2 linked regions of the Homo sapiens genome follow. The protein of the gene in region 2 purifies or fractionates together with the protein of the main gene of each other region. This does not show direct contact. Each region holds a gene or a part of one and is shown on either strand. Other genes may lie near its edges. The genes, in order: PLS1 and LMOD3.

Region 1 (3,821 bases), about 73 Mb from region 2:
CCTTACATGTCAGCAAAGTTTCCAGCAATCAAAATTGTATAACCATTTTATAACCAATAAACCCGTATGCAGCACAAATGTCTCTTTCTCCCCGACGTTCATCATCAGCCAGAGTAAAATGTTAATTCGGAACTGGATGAAGTGACAAGCTTTTGAATGTTGAGAGAATGAGGGCCAGAGGTGGCCTCAGCCTCAACACTTTGGGAGGCTGAGGCGGGCGAGTCACTTGAGGTCAGGAGTTGGCGACCAGCCTGGCCAACATGGTGAAACCCCGACTCTACTAAAAATACAAAAATTAGCCCGGTGAAGCCAGAAGCTGCGGCCCTGCCTTTCATATCCTGGGAACACAGAACCACTCAGGGGAAGGTAAAGCAGAACCAGGAAATGGAAAGAGAGCTCAGGCAGCAAGGGAGGGAAGCACGCTCTCAGCTGAGTTCCATTTTGAGACTCCCAGGAGAGTAAGTTCTCTATGTAATTAGGTTCATCAAGAGGAGGGAGAGGAGCACATTTTCTCACAGGTCAAAGCTGGGGCCTATGGGGTGGGGGGGGCCTTTAAATTATTTGTCTTTGACCTGGGGCCTTTCCTGAGGTATCCACACCCACCTCCAATTAGTCCACAGGGACTTCACAACTCCCCAATCTTAAAAATTGGGGGAGAATGTGTTCACACCTGGATTCTTCCTGGGGGTTTATGGCCATAGTTCAAAGGCCTAAGATTAGAGTCATGATCCATAGATATTCCAGGAGCTTCCAGCAGTGGATCCTGACACCCCAGGGAAAGAAATCCTTATACCTGGTCACTCCAGAGTTCTTAGGCTCCTACACAAGGTGAGCTTCCCAGTTTCCCATTGCCAACTCCACAGACACGCCCTGGATGACCACCAACTCACTCCCCAATCACAGCTCCACCCCAAAAGAGGGTGGGAGCAGATCAGAAGTGGCTTTAATGGTGTACCCAGAGAAAAAGCTGCTGTCCCTTTCTCTAGGAATGCTTCAAGAGAAAAGGAGATAAAGACTAAGTGGAATGAAAAAAAAAAAAAACCGGAACGATTTACCACTGTTGTTTTGGTTTTTTTAAATGTGGCTCAAAGAATGTTGGTGGTTCCACCAGCTGAAACCTGTGGCTATTCTAAGCATCTGTTAGAGTTACCTCAGAAAGAGCTTTGCATTTTTGTTAAGATATTTGATTAAGTTATTTGAGCGCTCAGTGTATAAAGTCAGATAGGCCTGGGGTCAAATCTCAGCTCAGCCACTTGTAAACTATATGACCTCAGATAAATGCTTTTATCTATCTCTCTAAGCCTCAATTTTCTCATCTAGAAAATGAGGGTAGGTCAGGTGCAGTGGTTCATGCCTGTAATCTCAGGGCTTCGGGAAGCTGAGGTGGGAGGATTGCTTGAGGCTAAAAGTTTGAGATCAGCCTAGACAACATAGCAAGACCTTATCACTATAAAAAAATTTTTTTTAATAAGCCGGGCACGTTGGTCCACACCTGGGAGGCTGAGGCGGGAGGACTGCTTGAGCCCAGGAGTTCAAGGTTACAGTGAGTTATGACTGTGCCATTCCACTCCAGATTGGGTGACAGACTGAAACCCTGTTTTTAAAAAATAAAAATTAAAAATAAATGAGTAATTGTTGCACCTATCTCACAGGATGGTTTATAAAGATGAAATGATATATTACTTGTATTTAGTATAGTGCCTGGTTCATGGAAGATATTCTGTAATACTAGTTACTAATATTACTATTATTATTTTAAGAAAGATATTTGTCATTTTACAAAGGGCCATGGTAAATTCTAGGATTTAATATTTGGACATTTAAGTGTATGAGACATTAACTTCAACATACTACCTGATTTTGCATCTGCCTAATCAATTTTCACTAACGTCATCATGAAAAACATATATATATAAAAAATATAGGCCGGGCGCGGTGGCTCATGCTTGTAATCCCAGCACTTTGGGAGGCCAAGGCGGGCGGATCACGAGGTCAGGAGATCGAGACCATCCTGGCTAACACAGTGAAACCCCGTCTCTACTAAAAATAAAAAAAAAATTAGCCGGGCGTGGTGGCGGGTGCCTGTAGTCCCAGCTACTCGGGAGGCTGAGGCAGGAGAATGGCGTGAACCCGGGAGGCGGAGCTTGCAGTGAGCCGAGATTGCGCCACTGCACTCCCGCCTGGGCCACAGAGCGAGACTCCGTCTCAAAAAAAAAAAAAAAAAAAAAAAAATATATATATATATATATATATATATATATATATATATATGAAACCAGGCCAACCCTTCCCTTCCCCACTGCTAGCCATTTCTCAAGCTCATTTGTTCTGTCTCTCCTCTCAACTGCTCTCTCTCTCCTTGACATTTTTAATGGACCATCGTTGCCTGTGGAAATATGAAGATGGTGGTCAACCACAGTGTGCAAGTCAATGGCAAGGATGTGGCATCCAACAGCTCCCTCATCGCTGTGTGCAGCTCAATGGAAAGGCTGTGTTTTGATTTGCAAAATGGCTATGATTTGCAAAATGCAACATCTGTTCCAAGTAAACAAATATTCCAAACCACCTCTTGAACTGGAAGTTTGGATTCAGCAGCACTGCTTTCTGTCTTGTTTTTCCAGGTAGAATCTGATCACAATTGTCTCTCTCTCAGCCTTACCTCACCCCCATGTTCTTGGGTCATAAACACCACCCTTTGGTGCCACCCTCCTGGCCTACCCTCACTGCACCTGGCCTACCCTCTCCAAAGCCATTGCTCACCACCTCCTGGTAGTGTACAATATATCTAGGAAATAGACTCTCAGTCCCAAGGACTTTGGGCCAACCCATTTGTGTCTGCCTCTGACAAGCTAAGCTACCATGACCTTTCCAGACTTCAACTCCCCAGTGTGAAGATTCCTAGGACCCCAGCCTCACTCCCTCCTCACTGTGTACACTCAACCTTGAACTGGCCAGCAGCCTTGTGTTTCACCTCTTCCGATGACACACACATTCTCTCATCGACCACCAAATTTCCCCCTTAGATTGGTTTCTGAGGGCTTTCAGTCCACAGAACATCTTGAACTGGAGTGTCTTGCTACCAACTCAAATTAATCTTGGGAGGCTGAGCATGGTGGCTCAGGCCTGTAATCCTAACACATTGGGAGGCTGAGGCAGGCCAAAGAATTCAAGACCAGCCTGGGAAAAATAGTGAGACCCCATCTCTAAACACAAAAAAATACAAAATTAGCCACGCATGGTGGCACGTGCCTGTGGCCACAGCTACTTGGGAGGCTGAGGTGGGAAGGATCACTTGAGCCCGGGGAGGTCAAGGCTGCAGTGAGCAGTGATCGTGCCACTGCACTCCAGCCTGGGTGACAGAGTGGGACCCTGTCTCAAAAAATAAATAAATAAATAAAAATAATCGTGGGGCCAACAACCTCAAAAAGTAATAGTTAATGAAAAGAGCTTGGGTCTAGTAATGAGGAAATTTGAACAGAGCTTCTGGCTATCCCACTAACTAGCTTAGTTAAGAATATCTGGCCGGGCGCGGTGGCTCACGCCTGTAATCCCAGCACTTTGGGAGGCCGAGGCGGGTGGATCATGAGGTCAGGAGATCGAGACCATCCTGGCTAACAAGGTGAAACCCCGTCTCTACTAAAAATACAAAAAATTAGCCGGGCGCGGTGGCGGGCGCCTGTAGTCCCAGCTACTCGGGAGGCTGAGGCAGGAGAATGGCGTGAACCTGGGAAGCGGAGCTTGCAGTGAGCCGAGATTGCGCCACTGCACTCCAGCCTGGGCGACAGAGCGAGACTCCATCTCAAAAAAAAAAAAAAAAAAAA
Region 2 (4,252 bases):
TTGGCTAAACTGAATGTTTTGATGTGCTTGTTTTTCTTCATTGCATTGACAAAGTCCAGTAACATTTCTTTGGGGATGTTTTCAATGTTGTTCAGGTTGAGTTCCTTCATGTCAGGATCATTTTTCCTAACTCTCCTCAAGCTCCCATCCAGGTCTGTCTGGTTTCCTGAAGGCCTTGTACTTACCTTCAAAAAGCTGGTGTCTAGAGCTAACTTCTTAGGATCTAATTTCGATATTTTTTTCTCACTTTGTTCTTGGGCCTCTGGTCTGTCTCTCTGTTCTTTGAATGCTTTGTCAGTTACCTGCTGGCAGTTGTTCTCACAATTTCTAATTTGTTCCTTTGCTTTGCCTTCCTCTTCTCTGTTCGTTTCTTCACTCTCTTCACCATCATCTTCTCCTTCGTCGTCATCATCATCATCTTCTTCTTCTTCATCTTCTTCATCTGTTTCTTGGATATTGCTGCTGCCCTTTGATTCTCTTTTATTTGCAACTATTTCATTATTGAGCTTTTCTTTTAAATACTGGGCCATATTTTTATTACGTTTTTCTATTTCTTCATGCTCTTCTTGAGTCTTTTCCTACAAGAGAGGTTTATGAGGGTTAGAATACATAGCAGAGAAGAAATATGAAGTGGAGCATCAGCTAGTGGAGATAATAAAAATGCTTATTTAAAAGAGCTGGTTGCTATTTTAAATAATCCTTATTTAAATAGCTGATTGCTAAAAATGGGTGGTTATTCTATCCCATAAATTAAAATGAGTATTAAAAGGAAACCTTATTAATTTTAATATTCTGTACTTTTTAATGGTGTTTAATTTCAGAAGCAGTTAAAAATTGTTTTGAAAACCTCATAGAATTGTTCATCGATACACTGAAGCTTTGATTTTGTATCTACCAAATAGGCATCTAGTACCCAACAGTCCTGAGTTAGGGCAATAATTTCCTTATTATTCCAATATATTATAAATGTGATACTATAAATATATTAGAATAAGGAAATTATTGCCCTAAAATTAACATCCCTACAATGTCTACTAATCTAGTATAGAATGTACATGAACTTCCTCTGAGAACATAACATAATGTATGGGAAATTAGATACGTTTGACATTTTGGAATATATATATATTTAAAAACCTCAATTTTGATTTTGAATATATATATATACATATATATATTTAAAACCTCAATTTTGATTCTATTTTTTCAGTTCTTTGACAACTGCCATGATACTCTGTCTAGGACAAGTTTACTATCCCAGTTTCTTGTGAAAGAAAGTGCCTAGGAACCAGGGCCAGCTGTAAGATGAAACAGGATTATGCAGACATTGAGAAATAATTGCTTAGTCTGGGAAATAAAATGGGCCTTTTATCAATAATATGTATTAGATTCTTGCACATCAATTATAATGCTTTTCTATGCAACTTGTGGGCCTCATAGATATCATTTTGAAAGCCAGTATAGCAAGTTGAGACACAGGTTCATTTGAGCAAAAATTTCATGCTCATAACATAGGTCAGAAGAGACAGTGACAAGTCACCTTAACCACCTGAAGTCTTCACCACTGCATTTCTCACCTTGACCAGAAGGGGGAGCCAACCATCAAGCTGTTCAAGTTATACCAGAGGAAGGAAAAACATGTTGCAAGTACTCGTTTTTACCCCCTGAAACTGGCATTCACATAGAATTGGCTTTTCATCCATTGATCTCCAGTTGTAAAAAATCTGCAAATTGTACCTTGAACTCTAACCTGATCAATCCAGCTGTTTCTTTTCTTAATCTTAGCACATGTTTAAACTCTACTGACTGTAAAACCAATTGACAACTTTCCTTAATTACAGCCAGCTTCAGAGTAATTTAACAAGATGTATCTTTGTAAACAGGCATAACCTAAAGAGACTTTACCTAGGAGGCATCTCTGTCCTCTTTTTGTTAAGTCATTTTCAAGTGGAACATAAAAAAAAAAATTATGCTCATGCACAGTAAGTTTGCAGAGTTAACAATTCTAGCTTTCAGGTTTTAGAAAGTGAAGAACTAGCTTCAAAACCACTTAATAGCCATCGATTTCTAAATGTCATCACTGACAGCCAATACATAGTAATAATATAAGACATTTTCTGGTTATTCGACTTGGTTTAATTGCAGGTTGTGTGGCCAGACTTCAGGAGGACTGAAATGTTTGACACTGTGTGCGAAACACTGCGTATGTTTGGATGTGCCAGAGAGACAGAGGCTACAGAGCTGTCATTACTTTCTCAAAGGGGCCTGCAATAAAAAAGAAAGAGAGAGGTAAGGACAACTGCCTCTGGGTTATGAGTTAAGTCACTAAGTATCGTGGCAATAGAACACAGGCTTTCTGACACAGCAAACCCGACAGCAATTTTTAAAAAGAGACATTTGCAAGAAATTACCCAATTTTCCCCTTGTAAATATAAATGTGTTTCAGAAAGTTCCAGTCGGAGTAGGATTAAATATTATGGTTTAATCTAGATATGGCAAAAACAAAGCAGAACCAAACCCTGGAGTCTTGAGAAATCACAGTTACAACAGAGAGACCTAACAGCCCATCCCAGGCAGCCATTTCTCGGTTGTACACAAATCTCTGGTTACCTCGGATTTCACAAAGGTGACAGGAACTCGTTCCTCTTCCAGCATGCGCCTGGATGCCTTTTCCCAATACATATAATCAACAAGAGATTTATGATTGAAGTTTCCTGTCGGTGGCTTGTCAGTTTGATCTTTCTGAATCATTCCCACGGGAAGGCTGGGGTCAGGGGCCATGACTTCCATTTCCGACTGCAGTTCTTTCAGTTCTTCAGCAGACAAGTTGGCCAAGATTTCATCTTCATTAATCTCCTCATCGAGAAGTTCTTCTTGATCTGAATTTCTGCTGTGCTCTGACATTATTTTTTCTAAATATTATTTTACTAGAAAAGAAGAATAATCAAAGATGATTTTTAAAAAGAAGGAAAAAAGCCTCAAGAAGGTCCCCCAGTTAACGAGTGTCCCAAGTTAACACACCCTTGAGATATTTTTTTTTTTTTCCCAGGAACCTCAGTGGTTTGCTGAGCAGCTAGGAGTGATCACAGCTAAGCTCTTGCCGGATCTATATTAAGCAGGGCTTGGCTGGATGGGGTCAATTTATGGAACAACTATGCTGCTCTCTTTTTGGCAACTTGAGTCAGCTGCGCAAATCCATCTGACATTTCAGTACAGCTGCTATGTTTGCCAGAGACTAGCAGAGACTACAGAATCTCTGCAGGAATAAAATTAATTATCTTCCTATATGCCATCATATTGCCATACACAAATTCATGCAGCTCATACATACATACCCCAATACTCCAGGGGATTCCACTTGTTTTTATTTAAATATTAAAGCAACTTACAATATTTCAGAAGGGAAATCCAACCAGCAACCTGAGTTGTTTCTGAAGTAAAGAATTCACTTGAAGGTAGAAATCAAGCTCTTAGGGTCTGCCTCTTCCCTACAAGGTGAGTGTGGAAGCAAATAAAGTGGTGCACAGTGGAACAGAGGTCTTGCTATGTCACTCATCCTCTGTGTAAGCCGAACCTTTGCAAGATGTCCTGTTTGCATCTAGATCCTGTGATCTAACAGATGGGGACAACCAGCACTTGGATTTCCACTATAAGTGAGTTTAATATTTTAAATTATTTGCTTTTCTTATTAAGTATCCATTAAGCCAATATCAATGAAAATGGCTCTAAAGTGAAGTGTTAAAAAAGAAATCCAGACCACTAATATACTAAAAGAAACTATGAGAAGATTTTGTTTTCAAACCCTGAAGGGGCAATATGCAACATTTGTCCAAATTACAAATGCCCATTTCCTTTGACCCAGCAATTCCACTTTGAGAAGTGTATCCTACAGATATACCCCTACATGGGTGAAACAACGTGTGTACAAGGTTACACAATATAGCAAAGTACAAAACAGTGTGTTTTACATGCCATTATTTGTGTGACAAAGGGTACAATAATATATAATATACAAGTTTTATTATATATATATTTAAGACAGGGTCTGGCTCTGTCACCCAGGCTGGAGGGCAGTGCTGCGATCTCAGCTCACTGCAACCTCTGCCTCCCAGGATCAAGCTGGGACCACAGGCATGCACCACTACACCCAGCTAATTGTATTTTTTGTAGAGACAGGGTTTTGCCATATTGCTCAGGCTGGTCTCGAATTTCTGAGTTCAAGCAATCCACCTGCCTCGGTGTCCCAAAGTTC

What was found.
Region 1: the proteins of LMOD3 (region 2) and PLS1 purify together in Homo sapiens (affinity purification with mass spectrometry; one large-scale study listed by BioGRID and IntAct). This does not show direct contact.

Annotation. Positions count from the first base shown.
Region 1 is NC_000003.12:142,599,328-142,603,148, reverse strand, and holds part of PLS1 (plastin-1), read right to left. Parts: intron 2,622-3,821; exon of another isoform or gene 2,403-2,621; intron 1-2,402. UniProt on the Homo sapiens protein: Actin-bundling protein. In the inner ear, it is required for stereocilia formation. Mediates liquid packing of actin filaments that is necessary for stereocilia to grow to their proper dimensions.
Region 2 is NC_000003.12:69,119,483-69,123,734, forward strand, and holds the start of LMOD3 (leiomodin-3), read right to left. Parts: upstream 3,114-4,252; 5' UTR 2,905-3,113; coding exon 2,611-2,904; intron 579-2,610; coding exon 1-578. UniProt on the Homo sapiens protein: Essential for the organization of sarcomeric actin thin filaments in skeletal muscle. Increases the rate of actin polymerization.